Linked DNA regions of Homo sapiens. The protein of the gene in region 3 interacts with the protein of the main gene of each other region in a pairwise test. Each region holds a gene or a part of one and is shown on either strand. Other genes may lie near its edges.

Region 1 (3,500 bases), on a different chromosome or scaffold from region 3:
AAAGGCGTGTTCATCCATTTTGTATTGCTATAAAGAAATACCTGAGCCTGGGTCATTTATAAGAAAAGAGGTTTATTTGGCTCATGGCTTCGTAGGCTACACTAGGATCATGGCACCGGCCTCAGGCAGCTTCCAATCATAGGGCAAGGGGAGGCGGCACCACACATTGAGAGAGGGAGGGAGGTGCTGGGCTCTTAAACACCCAGCTCTTACCTAAACTCAGAGGGAGAACTCATTACTACGGGGAAGAAGCCAAGCCACTCACGCAAGGTCTGCCCCCGTGACCCAGACGCCTCCCACTGAGCTCCACCTCTAGTGCTGGAACACTGGGAATCACGTTTCTTTTTTTTTGAAATGGAGTCTCACTCTGTGGCCCAGGCTGGAGTGCAGTGGCGTGATCTCAGCTCACTGCAACCTCCACCTCCTGGGTTCAAGTGATTCTCCTGTCTCAGCCTCCCAAGTACTTGGAATTATAGGCGCGTGCCACTATACCCGGCTAAAGATCCATTTCAGCACATGATTTGGAGCAGAGGAAACATCCAAAGTGTATCAGAAGGCAAGGTGCTTGGTCCTTGGCCCTTTTTGGCCCGCCACCAGCTGTGGAGTAAATTTTCCCCTGCACGCTGGCCTGGATGTGGGGTTTTTGTTGAATAGGAAGCTGCCCTTAGAGCTTCTTCCAAGAGGTGCTCCCAGCTGTCAACAGCTCAGAGCCCTTGGACTATTTTTCTAAAAGGCCAGGAGGGCTGCTGGGAAAACAGAAATGCGGACTCACCGCATTATTGCTTCAGGCAAGTAATTCCTGGGGTCTCAATGTGGGGGAGACTGTACATTTAGGACTAGGTGTTTTGTGGGTTTTAGTTGTTCTCATTGAATCTGGAGAACTGTCTGTCACCAAGGAATCCCCTCTGTAATAGCTGATGGTGGTCTCCAGCTGTATCTCACATACAAGAGCTCACTCTCCAAGACTGGCCCTGATGAGAAAGTTCTTCCATGCTGAAGGGCCGGGCGCGGTGGCTCACACCTGTAATCCCAGCACTTTGGGAGGCTGATGCGGGTGGATCACGAGATCAGGAGATCGAGACCATCCTGGCTAACACGGTGAAACCCCATCTCTACTAAAAATACAAAAAATTGGCCATGTGCGGTGGTGGGCACCTGTAGTCCCAGCTACTCGGGAGGCTGAGCCAGGAGAATGGTGTGAACCTGGGAGGTGGAGCTTGCAGTGAGCCGAGATCGCGCCACTGCACTCCAGCCTGGGCAAAAGAGCGAGACTCCGTCTCAAAAAAAAAAAAAAAGAGTTCTTCCATGCTGAATTGCAATCAGCCTCACAGACACTGCCACACCCAGTGCCAGGTCTGATCCTGCCTCACTGTGACAGGCAGATCTTAGGGTTTAAGAGGAAGATGGTGTTCCTTCTGTGTTCCCCACGTGACATGGAGTCCAGTCCCTCAGGTCTGGTGCCTGCTGCAGACACTCAGAATATTGTGTTTCAGGCAGCCTGACAGTGGGTCCAGGGCCATGTCATGACACGCATGTTTATTTTGTCAGCAAGATGGCCGTTTGGACAGCTTGTCTCCTCAGAGGCTCTTGTTGATAGATAATTTTTTTTTTTTTTTTTTTTTTACACATGGTCTTGCTCTGTTGCCTAGGCTGGAGTGCAGTGGCACAGTCATAACTCACTGCAGCCTCAAACTTCTGGGTTTAAGCAGTCCTCCTACCTCAGCCTCTTAAGTACCTGGGACTAGAAGCATATGCCACCAGACCTGGCTAATTAAAAAAAAAAAAAAACAATTTTTTTTTTTGAGACAGAGTCTTGCTCTGTCACCCAGGCTGGAGTGCAGTGGCACAATCTTGGCTCACTGCAACCTCTGCCTCCCAGGTTCAAGCGATTCTCCTGCCTCAGCCTTCTGAGTAGCTGGGACTACAGGCGCCTGCCACCACACCTGGCTAATTTTTTTTTTTTAATTTTTAGTAGAGACCGGGTTTCATCATGTTGGCCAGGCTAGTCTCGAACTCCTGACCTCAGATGATCCACCCGCCTTGGCCTCCCAAAGTGCTGGGATTGCAGGTGTGAGCCACCATGCCCAGCCTGAATCCGTTCTCTTTGGGCAGAATTGTCGAGCCAGCCACACAGGCACTGGCAGCTGTGACCTGGTCCCAACGCTCCATCTGGTTTAGAAGCTGCTGTGAGCAGGTCACCCCTCCGGTGGTCTCAGTGGCAGGTCCAGTGTCCTTTCATACAACTCCCTTGCTGCAGGACTGCAACTGGCCCCACCCTCCCTGGGCATCTGTGGTCTGATTGGTTGAGGTTAACCTTTCTCCCACTTGGTACTTAGAGCAAGTCACAGAAAACATCCAAGGCATGTTGTACTAGAAAGCGGGGGCAACCTCAAGCACAAGATGCCATGACCTTGCCAAGACTCGCTGAAGGACCATTTTCTCTCTTGTTCCATTCCAGACTGAACCCGGTGCCTGGCTCCTACCCCACACAGAGCTGCCACCCTCACCTGTCCCCAAGCCACCCTGTGTCCCAGACGCAGCACGCCAGTGGTCAGAAGCTGGCCTCCTGGCCCTCCTGCACCCCCGGGCACATGCCCACCTTGCCTCCGTACCAGCCTGCCTCCGGCCTGTGCTATGTGCAGAACCACTTTGGTCCAAACCCCACCTCCTCCAGTGTCTACCCAGCTTCTGCGGGCACCTCCCTGGGCATCCAGCCCCCCACGCCTGTGAACAGCCCTGGCACGGTGTATTCTGGGGCCTTGGGCACACCAGGGGCTGCAGGCTCCAAGGAGTCCTCCAGGGTCCCCATGCCCTGAGAGAATTTCTAGGGAAGTCATCTCACTTGGCCTTCTGAAGGTCCTCCCTAAGAGTCTCCTGACAAAAGTTACTTATTGAACACCTCTATGTGCCAGGCTCTGTGTTGGGTACTTTGATCAATGCCCCTGTTTCAGTCTCATCTGTACTCACGGCAGCCCTGTGGAGTACGGTGTACTGGCCCAGCTTACAGATGCAGAAAGCGAGACGTTCTGCCATCAGATAAAGTCACGTGGCTCTTTAGTAACACGGACAAGGCTCCTCGCCAAGGAACTCGTGGCAGAAGAGGGCAGCAGTTGGCAGTAGCTGCCGATGTCTGTCCCCAGCTCCACCATTCCTCCCTGTGGCTGTGCCGTGCTCGTGGTTTCAGTGTCCGTGTGTCCATGTGTCTGCCCTTCAGGAGCTCGCAGCTGGTGTGCTTGGCGGTCCCAGGCCTGTGTAGTGTCTCTCCCCTGCTGCGGGCGCCCCCACCCCGATTCCTCTCCCCAGAAGCGGTGGGATGGGCCCCCATGAACTGCAGCAGCATGCTGAGGTGTCCATGTTGTCTGCCTTTGTATAAAGAAACAGCCTCTGACCTGCCGTGCTGGCGTGTGCTTCCTTTGTGGTCTGGCTGGGGAAGAGGGAGTGCGCTGAGATCTGGGCAGTGGCAATGTGTGGTGTGGCGGCAGAGAGGAGAGATGCACCAG
Region 2 (3,500 bases), on a different chromosome or scaffold from region 3:
TGCATACTTTAATAAATTAAGGGTTCTCTTTTCAACAAATGGTGCTGGAAACGAGGTATCTGTATGAGGAAAAATGGAAAAAACGTGACTACTACCTCATACCATCTAGAAATAGCAATTCCAAATAGCATATATCTTAAAACTATAAAACTTCTTGAAGAAAATGCAGGTGAAAATCTTTGCTGCCTGGGCTAGGTGAAAAATTTTAAGACAGGACACAAAAAGCACTGACTAGAGAAAAAAAATGGTAACAGAATTAAAACATTTGGTTCTAGACTGCGCATGGTGGCTCACGCCTGTCATCTCAGCGCTTTGGGAGACCAACGAGGGTGGATCACCTGACGTCAGGTCGAGACCGGCCTGGCCAACATGGTGAAACCCCGTCTTTACTAAAAATACAAAAAATTAGCCGGCCATGGTGGTGGGAGCCTGTAATCCGAGCTACTTGGGAGGCTGAGAGAGGATAATCGCTTGAATCTGGGAGGTAGAGGTTGCAGTGAGCTGAGATCAGGCCATTGCATTCCAGCCTGGGCAACGAGAGCAAACAATGTCTCAAAAAAAAAAAAGAAAAAGAAAAGAAACCCCCCACCCCCACCAAAAAAAACAACATTTGGTTCTTCAAATGGTACTGTCTAGGAAACAGAAAGGCAAGGCACAGGATAGGAATATCGTGTTGGCAAGTACACCTGATAAAGGACTTATACCCAGAACAAACAACAGGCTCTTACAACTCAGGAATAACACAAACACTTAAACAAATGGGCAAAAAATCTGAATGTTCATTTCACAAAACAAGAAATACAAGTGGCAAATAAGTACAACAAAAAGATGAGCAGCATCGTTACTCAGCAGGGAAGTGCAAATTAACATCACAATAAAATACCACCCTGTAGTGGCCAGGATAAAACTCAAAGGCCAACCCTTGGCGAGGCTGTGGGACAACCTTGCTGGGGTGTCAAGGGGGACAGCCACTCTGGAAGAGATTGGTGCTTACCACAGAACCCAGCAGTTCCAATCCCAGGTATGCACCCAAGAGGAAAAAAAACATGTGTCCACACAAAGTTAGGTCTACACATGCTTACAGCTTTATTCCTAATAGCCCGGAACTGGAAACAAATAAAATAAACATCCATCAACAGAAAGGATAAACAAAACTGACAAGCTCACTGGTGGACCACCACACAGCAACAAGCAGACGTGGCACATGCAGCAGAACTGCTGAATCTTGAGAGCGTTTCAGTGAGGAAAGGAGACCGGAAACAAATGAGTTGTGTGCTGTGACTCCACTGATGATAATGATGGGCACTAGGACACTCAGAGCTGCTCGGCTGACGATGATGGGCACTAGGACACTCAGAGCTGCTCGGCTGACGATGACGGGCACTAGGACACGCAGAGCTGCTCGGCTGACGATGATGGGCACTAGGACACGCAGAGCTGCTCGGCTGACGATGATGGGCACTAGGACACTCAGAGCTGCTCGGCTGATGATAATGGGCACTAGGACACTCAGCTGCCCGGCTGATGATAATGGGCACTAGGACACACAGAGCTGCTCGGCTGATGATAATGGGCACTAGGACACTCAGAGCTGCTCGGCTGATGATAATGGGCACTAGGACACTCAGAGCTGCCCGGCTGATGATGAGGGGCACTAGGACACTCAGAGCTGCCCGGCTGATGATGATGGGCACTAGGACACTCAGAACTGCCCGGCTGATGATGAGGGGCACTAGGACACTCAGAGCTGCTCGGCTGATGATAATGGGCACTAGGACACGCAGAGCTGCTCGGCTGATGATAATGGGCACTAGGACACTCAGAGCTGCTCGGCTGATGATAATGGGCACTAGGACACACAGAGCTGCTCGGCTGATGATGGGCACTAGGACACTCAGAACTGCCCGGCTGATGATGAGGGGCACTAGGACACTCAGAGCTGCTCGGCTGATGATGATGGGCACTAGGACACGCAGAGCTGCCCGGCTGACGATGATGGGCACTAGGACACTCAGAGCTGCTCGGCTGATGATGATGGGCACTAGGACACACAGAACTGCTTGGCTGATGATCATGGGCACTAGGACACTCAGAACTGCCCGGCTGATGATGAGGGGCACTAGGACACTCAGAGCTGCTCGGCTGATGATAATGGGCACTAGGACACGCAGAGCTGCCCGGCTGACGATAATGGGCACTAGGACACACAGAACTGCCCGGCTGACGATGATGGGCACTAGGACACACAGAACTGCCCGGCTGACGATGATGGGCACTAGGACACACAGAGCTGCTCGGCTGACGATGATGGGCACTAGGACACTCAGAGCTGCTCGGCTGACAATAATGGGCACTAGGACACACAGAACTGCCCGGCTGACGATGATGGGCACTAGGACACTCAGAGCTGCTCGGCTGATGATGATGGGCACTAGGACAGACAGAACTGCCAGGCTGACGATGATGGGCACTAGGACACTCAGAACTGCCCGGCTGACGATGATGGGCACTAGGACACTCAGAGCTGCTCGGCTGATGATGATGGGCACTAGGACACTCAGAACTGCTCGGCTGATGATCATGGGCACTAGGACACTCAGAGCTGCTCGGTCTACAGTGGCAGAAACCAGGCCGGGGGCTTGAGAGGGCAGCGGGGGTTGCCTGTGGAGCACGGGGACTTTCTAGGGTGCTGGGACTGTTCTCAGTCTTGACTGGCGCAGCGTTACAAGATTATATATGCTTGTCCAAATGTATCAAACTGCACACTTGAAGTGTATGCATTTATTCCATATAAAGTATACCTCAATAGAGGTGATTTTTAAAAAGTAGAAGCCATGATAATGAAGACAGTGTGGTATTGGCACAGGGACTGACAAACAGACCACCTGGAACCAGAGAGAGGGTGAGAAGCAGACCCCTGATGAAGGATACTGAGGGGCTCAGGGGGCAGTTGCATGGGTGAACAGGGGGGCCGGGCTCTTCATGCAGGGTGCAGGGTAGCTGGCCCTCATCTGAGAACAAGGAGAGGGGACAGCACTTCACACTATACACACAACTCAGCCCCAGGTGGATTAATGACCTAAAGGAAAGATTTTAGGTTGAACTGTGAAGCTTCCAGAAAAATTCAGAATACATATTTTGACCTGTTAGTGAGGAAAGACTGCTTAACTAAGACATTAAAAACAGAATCCATAAAGGAAGAGATTGGCAAACTGAACCACATAAAATCCAGAACCTCTGTTCTTCAAAAACAATTTGTAAAACTCAAAAGATAATCACAGACCGAAAAAGCTATTTGCAACACATTTAGCTAACAGAGCTTTATTCAAATCATATAAAGAACTCTGACATGTCAGCCAGAAAAGGCACAGTGGAAATGGTCACCAGACCTGAACAGGCACCTCGCTGGAGGATGACCCAGCAACGACGTGAAAAGATGCTCAAGCTCGCAGGTCACCGGTGGCAGCCCAGGCTGCAAAGCTAGGTCCAGAGCCACCCAC
Region 3 (3,500 bases):
CCAGATCTGCAGAAGTTCCCCCCCTTACCTGGCTGAAGAGGTGGGAGAGCACCGTGTCGGGTAAAGTGCTAGTTAGGCCGGAGAGCTGCAGGGAGCAGGGCGCCAGCGTGAGTGCCGCCCCTCACCCCACCCTAGGTATACCCACCCCACCCCCGGTCACCACACACACCTTGGTGGCAGCCCAGTCTATCCAGCCTTTGCCATTGGGGTCGATGTTCACCAGCACCAGCCCCTCCACCAGGTCGGGGAAGATGAGCTGCAGTAAGAGGGGAAACAGGGCCGGGCGGGGCCAGGATGGGTGCAGATGGCAGAAACACTCTGTAAAGTCTTCAAGGTGCTGCTGATCAGCCACCCGGCTACAGCCGGGTCTGTGCATGCACACCCATGTCCAGATGCCCCTGCCTGTCCTCCTCTCACTGAACCCTTCACAGTTCTTGGATTTATTTAGAATCTCTATCATTGTTTCCACCCCTACACACACACAGACACACACACACACACACACACACGCTCTTTCAACAGAATCAGCTCTTAATATATTTTTGAAGTGCAAAATTGAGTATTAAACATCTTAAAATCTTAAGCATGTTGTTTTTTTGCTTTTATAGAGAATGAAGCCCTGGCCAGGCGCCGTGGCTCACGCCTGTAATCCCAGCACTTTGGGAGGCCAAGGCGGGCTGATCACCTGAGGTCAGGCATACGAGACCAGCCTAGCCAACATGGTGAAGCCCTGTCTCTAATAAAAATACAAAAATTAGCCAGGCGTGGTGGCATGCACCTGTAGTCTCAGCTACTTAGGAGGCTGAGGCAGGAGAATTGCTTGAACCAGGGAGGTGGAGGTTGCAGTGGGCCGAGATCATGCCACTGCACTCCAGCCTGGACGACAGAGCAAGACTCCATCTCAAAAAAAAAAAAAAAAAAAAAAAAAAGAAAATGAAGCCCTCATGATATAAATTAAGAAAAAAACAACCTTTTCAAAGTCTGTTTTGCCGTAGGCATTGCAAAAGAGGTATTTTCTTTTCAACTGTTAGACTGTGCTTAAAGAAAAACAGCATAACCACATCAAGCTTGTCTAGGGTGGCAGGGAATGGCCTCCAGTTAACAAAATGATTAAGTGCTGACATTGCAACTGGAGTTGAAAATTCTTGGTCATTTCTTTTGAAGTAGTAAATGTCTTCGATCGTGAAAAATTAGTCTTTTGGGTTTTTGTTTTTTTTTTTTTTGCTTGTTTTTAGAGATGAAAAGCTTGTGAATTCCTACCCAACAATGATTTTTTTTATTTTTTTATTTTTTTGAGACAGAGTCTCGCTCTGTTGCCCAGGCTGGAGTGCAGTGGCGCGATCTCAGCTCACTGCAAGCTCCGCCTCCCGGGTTCACGCCTTTCTCCTGCCTCAGCCTCCCGAGTAGCTGGGACTACAGGCGCCCGCCACTACGCCCGGCTAATTTTTTGTATTTTTAGTAGAGACTGGGTTTCACCGTGTTAGCCAGGATGGTCTTGATCTCCTGACCTCGTGATCTGCCCACCTTGGCCTCCCAAAGTGCTGGGATTACAGGTGTGAGCCACCGACAATGATGTTTTTGAAATGTGCCTTCTTTAAACCTCCCAACCATAATAAAATTTTTTGCTAAAAAAATTATTCATGTTGAAATACCATGGCAATTAGTGAAGGACGATCCTTATTTAGTGGCTAGAGCAGTTAGTTGTATAGTTTGTTGCTACTAGAAATTCTGGCTTTGGATAATAGTTTAAGCAAGTTATAGTTTCTAGTCTCTTGAGAAAACTATATGGAGAAAGGAACCTCTTTTTTAAAAAAGTTAATTTCCCTGGAGGAAAAAAGAAAAAAGAGGTTTTCTACATAAAGAGGAGGTGGGAGGAGGAGAAGCGAGAGCAGGGACACTTCCTCAAGGCTGAAGGGTTCCCCCCAGTCCCCACCACTGGGACATCCCTGGCTTGCCCTGGTGTTTGGGGTAATGGGGGCATGGGGAGACTCACTGCAAACTTGGCCAGCACATAGGCTCCGGCGCCCACTCCGATGCCAATCACATACTTGAACCTGGTGCAGAGCAGGCTGGTCACTCTAGGGCTAGGGGTGCCATTTCCCATACATGTCATCCAGAGCAGGCCCTGCCCATAGCCTGAAGCCCTCAGCTGGAGCCAGGTGGCTCTGCAGTTGGGGTAGGCACCCCTGGGCCCTAGCGCAGGGGCTGTGCGGGGACTCACCCGAAATGCTGCACCACGCTGGGGAGCATGGCAGCCAGCTGCTCCATGGAGGGGAACTGGTACCTGCAGGCAGAGCAGGAGGTCAGGGCCCAGGTGTGGCCTCAGGTGCAGAGCTGGAGACAGGCAGAGGGGGCTCAGGGTACCTACCCCTGAGGAAACTGCGACGCCCCCACCTGTTGTCCAGGGGCATCCACGTGACACACCACAAAGTGCTTGGTGATCTCCTGCATGTCCTCGAAGTTGAAGAAGGTGTTGAAGCATAGTTTGTCTGCAAAGACACACTTCCACTATGGCTGAGCAGAGGGGCCGGGGGACTGGAAGGAAGGCCGGGCCCCCAGAGGGCAGGCAAGGCAGAAGTGTAAGCCTCGGGTCCGTCGGGGAAATGGAGGCCCGGAGGGCGAAGGCAACAGAGGTGAGTGTGAGTGGGGCTGACAGGGCCCTGTGGGGAGGGTGGGGGGCCTCACCGCTCTGGCTGATGGGAGGCAGAGGAGGGCTGACTGAGGCTGGGCTGCACTTACGGTTGAGGCCCACATCATGGTAGGTGAGGATGGCTGGGCGGTTCCCCTTGGGGGAGCCCCGGATCACTACATGCAGAAGGCCGTAGGGTGTCTCGATGTCATGTTCCTGAAGGGGAGAGACCGTGCTGGACACTCTGGGCAGCCTCCGCTCTTGGCTCCTCTGGGGAATGAGGTGACGCAGCCTGGTACCTGTTAGGCCTGTGGTAGAGCCCCTACTTGGGGCATCCTGTTCTCATCACCCCAAGAAGCCCCCAGAGAGGACTGAATGGATGGAACACCCCTTCTCAGGGCTGTTCAGTACAGAGACAATGTGAACTGATCTGCATGGGGAAGGTCTGGTCCTCTCTGCAAACCAGCCACTGGTTTGTGCTGTCACTGTCCTCCGCCCTTGAGGGTCCAGGGAGGCTGTTTTTCTCCATCTTGCAGCAGCCCCTCCTGGACAGCTCTGCCTCCCCAGCCCAAGTCCCTCTCACACTCAGAACTCTCAGGCACTTCCTGCTGCTGCAGGGGAACGGCCTCAGTGGTCCTGCCTGGAATCCTCAGAAAACACCCCGTGCCAGCCAAGCCTAGCCCCGACCCCGGCACTGCCCCTGGCTCCCACTCTAAGGCTCTTGCGCATGTGGTTCCTTCCACCTTGAACGCCCTTCTGTGTGAGCCCAGCATCCTCAAGGGCTCCCTTCAGGCAGGCCCGGGTCAGACCCCCCTCCCCATCCCCTCTAGAGGCCTTCTGCAGAGCCTGCTCTGGGATCCTCTTGAGTTCA
Region 4 (3,500 bases), on a different chromosome or scaffold from region 3:
TACTATTGAGCAGTGCCGGCGAGAGGGCTTCAGCCAGAAGATGCAGGAGCAGAAGAATGAAGGCTGCCAGGTGTATGGCTTCTTGGAAGTCAATAAGGTATCAGGAGGGATCAAGACAAGATAGGGCCAGCTGGGCTGGGCAAGCTCCACTGGGAACCGAGGGCCCAGTCAGGCCCTGAGTAGGCAAAAGGAGGACACAGCCAGTGAATGAGAGAGAATGTTCCTTACAGGTGGCCGGAAACTTCCACTTTGCCCCTGGGAAGAGCTTCCAGCAGTCCCATGTGCACGGTGAGTGATCTGCACTAGCTGGGGAGATTTAGATGCTGGCCACCTTCTTGGTGAGCTTGAGTGGTCCTCTTCTGCCTGCTGCTCATTTGTCTTGGGCAACCATTTGGCCAGAGCAGGCCTTCATCTCAGGGCAGCAGTTTGGCACAGTGGCTAAGAGCACAGGCCGAGGAGCCAGACTGCCTGCATTCAGATACCAGTTTCAGACCTTACTGGCTGTGTGACTTTGAGAAGGTTTCTTAATCTTTTTGACTCCTGTTTTCTACTTTATAAAATGTTGTGAGGGCACTTATCTCACAGGGTGTGTGTGCAGGTTAAAGATGATAGCACGGAGCCTGGCTTGTGGTAGGTACTTGTTGAAATGGTAGCCCCCCGTGTCCGATGATGACCTGTGCATGAGGCTTTGGGAGAAGCAGAGCTAGGTTGGAGCACAGGTTCTGCCACACCTGGGCTATGTCATATTTGGGCCCTATTTAGTTGCTTCTTCTGTAAAATGGGGATGATGATAATAGTACCCACTCACAGGGCTGTTGGGGTGAACAAATGAGATTTATTCTCATTCATTTGTTCATTCATGCATTCACAAAATATTTAGTAATCACCTACTAGTCTAGTTGCTAAGGGTACAGTAGTGAACAATCTGTGCCCTCAGAACATTCTAGTAAAGAAATAGACAATAAGTATATAAAATATAAATAGTCCCCAATTAACAATGGTTCAGCTTGCAATTTTTAACTTCATGATGGGTATTACATGCATTTTTCACTTAACGATATTTTCTTTTTCTTTTTTGAGACAGAGTCTCACTCTGTCGCCCAGGCTGGAGTGCAGTGGCATGATCTTGACTCACTGCAACCTCCACCTCCTGGATTCAAGTGATTCTCCTACCTCAGCCTCTTGAGTAGCTGGGTGTACAGGTGCGTGCCACCACGCCCAGCTAAGTTTTGTATTTTTAGTAGAGATGGGGTTTCATTATGTTGGCCAGGCTGGTCTTGAACTCCTGACCTCAAGTGATCTGCCCGCCTCGGCCTCCCAAAGTGCTAGGATTACAGGCATGAGCCACCGCACCTGGCCGACTTACAATATTTTCAACTTGCAATGGGTTTATTGGGACGTAACCCCAGTGTAGGTCAGGGAGCATCTGTATATGGTATATCAGATGCTGTTAAGTCATATGGACCAAAACAAGGCAGGATAAAGATGGTAATGGGGAGGGGCTAGGGTAGGGCAGTGAGGGTCCTATTTTAAATATGGAGGTCAGGGAAAAACTCTTTGATGAGGTAATATTTTAGCAAAGACCTGAAGACAGTGAGGGAGCCAGCCATGTGGATGTCTGGGGAGGAAGTGTTACAAGCAGAGAGAACAGCAAATGCAAATTCCTAAGGCTAGAATGTGCTTGGCAAGTTCAAGATACAGTAAGAAGGTTAGGGTGGCTGGAGCAGAGGAGCATGCTTAGAAATGAAGTGAGAGAGGCCGGGTGCAGTAGCTCATACCTGTAATCCCAGCACTTTGGGAGGCCGAGGCGGGTGGATCACCTGAGGTCAGGAGTTCAAGACCAGCCTGGCCAACATGGTGAAACCCTGTCTCTACCAAAAATACAAAAATTAGCTGGGTGTGGTGGCACACGCCTGTAATCCCAGCTACTCGGGAGGCTGAGGCACGAGAATCTCTTGAACCTGGGAGGTGGAGGTTGCAGTGAGCTGAAATTGCGCCATTGTACTCCAGCCTGGGTAACAGAGTGAGACTCCATTTCAAAAAATAATAATAAATAAAGAGAGGTCACAGGGCCATATCATGCAGGGCTTGCAGGGGCATTGTAGGGACTCGGGCCGTTACTCTGCATGAGATGAGAAGCCATTGTAGGGCCCTGAAGAAGGTGAGGCATGATCTGACTTAAAAGCTCTCCAGCTGCTCTGTGGACAAGACTGGGCAGGGGAAAGGACAGAATCAGAGAGGCCCATTAGGAGGCAGTTGCAGTGATCAATCCAGGCAAAAGATGGTGGGGCACGGCCCAGAGTGGCAGTGGAAGTGGTGGGAAGTGACTGGCTTCTGGATGTATTTTGAAGGTAGAGCTGAGAAGAGTTCCTGATGGGCATGAGGGATAAAGGAAAAAGGAGTCAAGGATGCCTCCAAAGTTTTGTACCTGAGTAGTAAGAAGGATGGAGTTGCCTGTAATCCTAGCACTTTGGGAGGCCAAGGCAGGTGGATTGCCTGAGCTGAGGAGTTTGAGACCAGCCTGGGCAACATGATGAAACCTTGTCTCTACTAAAAAATGCAAAAAATCAGCCGGGCGTAGCGGCGTGCGCCTGTAGTCCCAGCTACTCGGGAGGCTGAGGTAGGAGAATTGCTTGAACCCAGGAGGCGGAGGTTGCAGGGAGCCGAGATTGTGCCATTTCACTCCAGCCTGAGCGACAGAGTGAGATTCCATCTCCATTAAAAAAAAAAAAAAGGATAGAGTTGCCATTTAGCAAGATGAGGGAGACTCAGGGCAGGTTTAGATGTTCGGAAATGGGATCGTACAGCTGGTATTCGGCTTTTGACGTGTTCAGACCAATAGCATCTGGGTGTCCTTCTAGACACCCAAGGTGTCAAGTAAGTTTTCCATTCAAGCCTGGAGTTCAGGGAGAGGACTTGCCTGGAGATGCAGATGTTGGCATCATCAGCATGTGTATAGAGCTGTGGGACTGGATGAAATCACCCTGGAGGTGAGGGCAGATGGAGAAGAAGGGAAGCTCAAAGGGCTGGGTGCCAGGCCTCCCACATTAGAGGCCAAGGGTGTCAGGGGGAATTGGTAGGGGAGACTGGAGGAGGAGTGTAAGCTGGGAATGTGGCATCCTGCCAGCCACGGACGGGTGTTTCAAATACCACATCAGATGCTTCTGGATGTCAAGCGGGAATTGACCATGGCATGTACATGCAACAGTCACTTATAGCCTTGACTGAGTCATTTAAGGGTGTGACAGGACCACCCTAGAGTGGGTTCGGGAGGGAATGGGGGAGGAGTTGGAGCCAGTATTGACAGCTCTATAGTGGAAATTGCCTAGGGGAGGAGAGAGCATGAGCTGAAGCTAGAGGGAAATGTGGAGTCGAGGGAGGCTTTTCTAAGGAGGGTGATGTAGCAGAATGTTAATATGCTGTTGGAAATTATCGACTAAAGAGCATAAGTGATGCTCCAGAGACGAGACAGTGACCGGAGTGAAGTCCTGGAGAAGGAG

Evidence for each region.
Region 1: the proteins of NDRG4 (region 3) and RHBDD2 interact in binary tests that used the Homo sapiens proteins (3 or more experiments, as listed by UniProt).
Region 2: the proteins of NDRG4 (region 3) and THAP4 interact in binary tests that used the Homo sapiens proteins (3 or more experiments, as listed by UniProt).
Region 4: the proteins of NDRG4 (region 3) and ERGIC3 interact in binary tests that used the Homo sapiens proteins (3 or more experiments, as listed by UniProt).

The regions. Positions count from the first base shown.
Region 1 is NC_000007.14:75,885,534-75,889,033, forward strand, and holds the end of RHBDD2 (rhomboid domain-containing protein 2), read left to right. Parts: intron 1-2,458; coding exon 2,459-2,816; 3' UTR 2,817-3,393; downstream 3,394-3,500.
Region 2 is NC_000002.12:241,588,659-241,592,158, forward strand, and holds part of THAP4 (peroxynitrite isomerase THAP4), read right to left. Parts: intron 1-3,500. UniProt on the Homo sapiens protein: Heme-binding protein able to scavenge peroxynitrite and to protect free L-tyrosine against peroxynitrite-mediated nitration, by acting as a peroxynitrite isomerase that converts peroxynitrite to nitrate.
Region 3 is NC_000016.10:58,503,143-58,506,642, reverse strand, and holds part of NDRG4 (protein NDRG4), read right to left. Parts: intron 2,938-3,500; exon of another isoform or gene 2,900-2,937; coding exon of another isoform or gene 2,846-2,899; coding exon 2,740-2,845; intron 2,490-2,739; coding exon 2,369-2,489; intron 2,285-2,368; coding exon 2,222-2,284; intron 2,055-2,221; coding exon 1,994-2,054; intron 257-1,993; coding exon 170-256; intron 86-169; coding exon 29-85; intron 1-28. UniProt on the Homo sapiens protein: Contributes to the maintenance of intracerebral BDNF levels within the normal range, which is necessary for the preservation of spatial learning and the resistance to neuronal cell death caused by ischemic stress.
Region 4 is NC_000020.11:35,548,578-35,552,077, forward strand, and holds part of ERGIC3 (endoplasmic reticulum-Golgi intermediate compartment protein 3), read left to right. Parts: coding exon 1-97; intron 98-230; coding exon 231-288; intron 289-3,500. UniProt on the Homo sapiens protein: Possible role in transport between endoplasmic reticulum and Golgi. Positively regulates trafficking of the secretory proteins SERPINA1/alpha1-antitrypsin and HP/haptoglobin.